Linked DNA regions of Homo sapiens: region 2 is linked to region 1. A link means that fine-mapping ties the variant in region 1 to the expression of a gene that starts in the linked region. Tissue or cell type: whole blood. Region 1 holds a variant in brackets; the other region holds the start of a gene. All regions are shown on one strand. Distances are from middle to middle.

The links. PIP is the estimated chance that this variant, and not a neighbour inherited with it, causes the effect.
Region 2: AHRR starts here. The variant in region 1 is fine-mapped to the expression of AHRR in whole blood (TOPMed, PIP above 0.99).

Annotation. Positions count from the first base shown.
Region 1 is chr5:106,399-109,233 of GRCh38, forward strand. All of the region lies in intron 1 of PLEKHG4B (pleckstrin homology and RhoGEF domain containing G4B), which reads left to right. Among named protein-coding and RNA genes, the nearest start is that of PLEKHG4B, 16 kb to the left of the region's middle. The variant C/T (reference allele first, on the strand shown) is at 1,465.
Region 2 is chr5:320,074-322,728 of GRCh38, forward strand. It overlaps AHRR (aryl hydrocarbon receptor repressor), which reads left to right and starts at 1,641. Exons shown (of 11, transcript NM_001377236.1): 1 at 1,641-1,746. All of the region lies in intron 3 of PDCD6-AHRR (PDCD6-AHRR readthrough (NMD candidate)), which reads left to right. RefSeq lists silencers at 853-1,112, 1,263-1,752, 1,843-2,222, 2,233-2,292 and enhancers at 1,877-2,444, 2,533-2,652.

The DNA.
Region 1 (2,835 bases):
TACTGTTTAGATTTCATGATAGAAATTACCTTCCTAAATGCAGAGTTATATTAAAATACTTGCATATTTATTTATTTCAAGGTATTTTGTTCTTAGTTTGGCAGAAAAATCTGCCAACAGTACTTGGTGGCCGATTTAACGAACATGTAGAACTGCACTTTGTAATTGTCCACAGCGTGCTCACATTTCAAAACCTGAAACAAATTTCAGTTAGAGGTTTTTGTCAGGACCCCACTCTGCAAGCTCCATGCATTGCTGAATTTACGAGTGGCTCCCCCTGCAGCAGGGTGAGGGCTGAGAGCAGACGTAGGTGTTGACGTGAGAGCCGGAGCCCAGGGTGGCTGCACAGGCAGGGACAGGAGGAGTGTAGCTGCAGTTTCTGAGTTCTGTGTGCACGTGTGTGCCCACAGGGATATTGAGGTGCCACGTGCAGCTTCTGTGTGTGTGTGTGCACGTGTGTGTGGTGAGAGATGAGGTGCAGGGCGCAGTTCTCGTGTATGTACGTGTGTGTGCACGCACGCAGGTGTCTAGGTACTGTATGTGTGCCCACATGTGGAGACTCATATGCAGGATGCAGTTCTTATCCGATTCTTTTCCCGGCAAGGCCTGCTCAGTGCAGACATGGGAAGAGGCTGGAATCTGCAGCTTCAGGGGCTGCCCCAGCAGGACTTGTGGATGTAGACCCACCTCTCTCGGGCTTTAGGGTTAGGCATAATGGCTCATTATTAATGCTCAGCCAACTGTAAAGCTGCTCCAGGTCCTGCCCATCTCTGCCTGCTGGAGGAGGTGCCAGCCCTGCTGAGGCGGCCACATGTACCCATCAGTCACAGCCCCTGGGGCTCACTGGACAGGGCCTACTTGATGTTTGCTGTCAGGGACCCTGGACCCCAGAGACCCCATGCTTGGCCCTTCTGGGATCCACTGCTCTCCTCTGCTCTGGGCCCCATCCTGGGCACCCAGGCCCTGGCTCCACCCTGTCCTGCCATTGTAAGTTGCACGACGTTGCCCCTGAGGCCTCCAGCAAGCCTGGACAGCCCTGGCCTTCCTAGGAGGAAGAAGGGGCTGCTAGGCCTGAAGGTTCACCTGGGAGAGTCTTGGGTGCTCCCTTACCCATCTGCTCATGCAGCGAGACCTTCTTACCCTCAGGTGCTGCTCAGATGCCTCTTCTTCCGGGAAGCTGGCCTAGACTCAGGGCGCTGCTGAGGGCTCACTCTGGTATCCCACCTGCCCATCCCCGCCCTGGGTCTGGCCTCACCCTGAACTGTGAGTCCCTGGAGGACGGGGGTTGCCCTGGGCTGGGGCTTGGTAGGCATGTGTCAGTGAGGAGGGGAACTGAGCCAAGGCTTTCTCTGCACTTGCCCTGGTGTGGCCAGGAGCTCTGGCTGGACCTCGGTGGGGCTCATCAGAGAGCAGCTAGCATCACCACCTGGCCCACTAGCTCCCAATGCAGTGATCCGGGTGGGG[C/T]TGGGGCACCAGCTTGGGTCCAGGTGTGCCAGGTTTGTATACCTGGGCTTCAGGGATATAGGAATTAGAGTGTGGTGGAGTGGAGCAGCACCTTTCTGGCACAGTAACCACATAGGCTCAGGGAATTAGAAGAGAGGAGGCCTCGAAACAGAGACTACCAGCTTGACCCCAGACTCTGGAGCACCCAGCCATCCCCTGCCACCAGGTCCTGCGTCTCCAGTGGGCTTCCCTTGTGGATTGGGTTGGTTATGGGAATCGGAAAACCATTTCAGGGGAGTAAGACATTTGCTGGGTGAAGCTTTTCACCAGGACCTGGGAATCTCTCTAAATCTACTCAGGTGATAAAGTCAGTGCATTAGGAACCAGGGATGATGTGGCTTTTGGTGATTGCTGAACTCTTCAAAGAACGTAGAACAGAAACCCAGAGAGGCAAGGCACACTCCCTTCCTTCCCCCTTGCCGTCCTTCCTTCCTGGCACCCTGTTGTACCAACTTCGGGCCAACGGAACTTTTAGCCTTAGAAGCGTCTTCAGCATCTCCAGCGGAGAGGGTCAAGAATCCAAAATACACAGAAGCCTGAGTGGAAAGCAGGGCTGGTGTAGACAGACTGGGTGCAGATGGCTGGTGTAGACAGACGGTGCAGATGGCTGGTGTAGACAGACTGGGTGCAGATGGCTGGTGTAGACAGACTGGGTGCAGATGGCTGGGTGTAGACAGACTGGGTGCAGATGGCTGGTGTAGACAGACTGGGTGCAGATGGCTGGTGTAGACAGACTGGGTGCAGATGGCTGGGTGTAGACAGACTGGGTGCAGATGGCTGGTGTAGACTGAGTGCAGATGGCTGGTGTAGACAGACTGGGTGCAGATGGCTGGGTGTAGACAGACTGGGTGCAGATGGCTGGTGTAGACAGACTGGGTGCAGATGGCTGGTGTAGACAGACCGACCTGCACACCAAGCCCTGTTTGGGACGAGGCTTCCTAGACAGGTTTTGATTCAATGGTGGTTTCTGACTGCACAGACAGGAAACCAGAGATGGGCACGGGTACCTGGGCCAGACGCCAGGAGCCATCACTGGGTCCTGATGGGCCTGAATGGCTGTGACCAGGTGGCAGCCCAGAGCGAGCCTCCTGGGGGTGTGGGTTTCACACCTGGCTTTCTCATTCACCACCCTGCTGTGCTAAGAAAGTGGCCATTGATGGGAACTGGGGCAGAGCAGGGACAGTGTGGGTCCCCCGCTGTCCCCAGGGCCCTGCTTGAAGGAGCCACGGGTGTCTGCTGCCCACGGATGTCTTGCTTTTTGCAGGGAAATCAGGAGGTCAGAGTTTGAGACCAGCCTGGCCAACATGGTGAAACCCCATCTCTACTGAAAAT
Region 2 (2,655 bases), 210 kb after region 1:
GCAAGCCGAGGTGGGTGGATCACCTGAGGTCAGGAGTTCGAGACCAGCCTGGCCAAGATGGCAAAACCACTATCTACTTAAAAAAAAAAAAAAATTAGCCAGGTGTGGTGGCGCGCGACTGTAATCCCAGCTACTTGGGAGGCTGAGGCACGAGAATCGCTTGAGCCCTGGAGGCAGAGGCTGCAGTGAACTGAGATCGCACCACTGCTCTCAGGCCTGGGTGACAAAGCAAGACTCTGTCCCAAAAAAGCCCATTTACTCAGCTCACATTTTTGAGCCTCTGCTATTCGACAGGAACCAGAGGTGAGCAGAGCCGACTTGGTGACCCCTGGGGACAGAGCGGCAGAACTCAGCAATTCTGGGCTGCCCTGCAGGAGCTACACCCGGGGAGGGGCGGTGGCCACTTGGGGGCAGGGTGGGCTTCTCAGCTGCGCCCACCCCACCTTGGGAGCTGTGTCTGGAAAAGAGACTTTTCCTGAGCCGACAGCAGACAGCGAGTGCAAAGGCCCCAAGGCCCGCACGCCTTATTCAGAGAACAGCAGGAGGCGCGGGGCGGGTTGGGGGCGTCAGGGAGACGGGGTTTGACTGAGAACCTGGGGGCGCCAGTGACAGCCTCGGCCGCGTTGCTGAAAACCGACCTTGCGGGATGAAGAGGGCGCGGTTCCCCCGGCTGGGATGAGGACCGCGGATGCTGAGGAGCGGACTCCAGGGACCACCGACTCCATGGCCGGCCCCAGCGAGGGCGAGAACGGGTGGAAGCCGGCCAGGGTCTGTGGAGACGTCAGGGTGCGAGGCCAGGCTGAGGTGTCCCCAGGGATCCCCTGAGGGTACAGGGAATTCAGCCAGGGCCTGCGCGCCCGGACGGAGGACTAGAGGGGGCCAAGGACCACCGGGAGGGGGAAGGAGAAGGCGCAGCCCGAGGTCGGAGGGGCCGGCGGGCGCGCAGAGGGCGCGGGGTGAGCCCTAAGGACCTGCAGGCAGGACCCTGCTCTCGGCCGCGCGGTCCCGGGTGCCGACCGGCGGGGTGGGCGGGGCAGGGGCACCCAGGGCCGCACACCTGCCGCGTGGGACCCTGAAATGCCCAGGACGAAGAACGTCGCACGGACGACCCTGCCGTGCCTGGCGCGCGTCCGCTTCCTGGGAAGCTCAGGATCCAAAAGCATCTTAATATTCTCTATAATTCGCCAAAAACCATGACTCCTTTTACATTTTCGAAACGACCTCATGGGGCAGGCGAGGGGGCACACGCTCTCCTCACTTTACCTGTTCGGGTCTACACCGCCCGGCTCTAGGGCCGGCAGCTCAGCACAGCCGGCCGCGAGCGCTGGGGAGGGGACGGGGGCGCAGGGAGAACCGGGGGACCCTGGGCGCACACAGACCCCAGGGGGAACGCAGGGCCTGGAGGGGCTCAGCGCGCGACCCCCGCCTCGGGGCACGGAGACTCCGGGGGATCACTGGGACGCGAAGGGCGCAGGGCGGACCCCAGGGGAACCGGATGGCGTCTCCGGTTCGCCAGGGCAGCTGGGGCAGCCGGACCCGAGACAGCCGGACCCGCGGGCGCCCTCTGCCGCCTCCCGGCCCTGGATGCTGCGGGGCGGGGCGGGCGGCTCGCGTGCCGGGGTGGGGCAGTCCCTGGAGCCGCCGCGGGTTCCCGGGATGCGAGCGCCGGCACCCGCCGCCACAGCTCCTGGCCAGGGCGCGCTGCCCCGCGGGTGTGCCTGAGCCTCCGCGCCCCGCAGGCCCTGGGTAAGTGTCCTGGGCGCCCCCGCAGGCCCCCGCCGCGTGCCGCCCGCGGTGGAGACGGGATGCGCTCCCGGGTGTGGGGCTGAGGGACGGGCGCCGGCGTCGGGACCCTCCTCACGCCGCATCCTCGCGTCGCCAGGCCCGGCGGCCCCGGGACGGGGCGGACACTCTGGGGTGCGGCTGGCTGGTCTCACTTAAAACTCGGACCTCGGAGGGAAGCCGCGGCGCGTCCACGGTTCGTGGTCCTCAGCGTCCCCTCGAGAGTGTTCTGAGCCTTCACTCCCCGGGCGTTCCGTGCGGGCCGCGCTCCCTGGGGCTGGGCGGGTGCGGGCGGCGGAGCGGGGCCCCGCTGTCGGGCCGAGGGCGCCAGGTCCGGGGGGCCTCACCCCCGGGAAAGGCCCATGTTCAGGCTTGGTTTCAGTAGCACCCAGTAGCGCTGAAGTCTTATTTTGAGCGGCCAGAATTCCCAGACCGGATGCCCTGAGAGAGCGATGTGGCGCCTGGAGTCCACGCTGGGACCCCTTCTGGGGAGGGGTCGCCATGGGCGCGTGACAGGCAGGGGCCACCCTCTGACCTCTTCTGCGAGGCCGGAGGTCAGAGACCTTGTGCAGAAGCGTCCCACGGGCCTGTCCCACGGGCCTGTCCGGCTGTGGCCTCCGGGATGGCAAGGGCAGGCGGGGAGGGGCTTCCTCCCTGGGCCTCCTGTGCGCGCGCACAGGCTCTCGTCTGCGGGGTTCTTGCAGAAGGGTGGGCGTGTGCGCGCGTTCTCCAAACGCCACCCCCACGGGGCCTCACAGCCGCCCCGGCCTGGCAACCGTCACCCATTTTACGAACGAGGACATCAAGGTAGGTCGCTCATCCAGCCTCTCAGAGCAAGTGACTGGCGGCGTTTGGACTCGGGCCGAGTGTGCC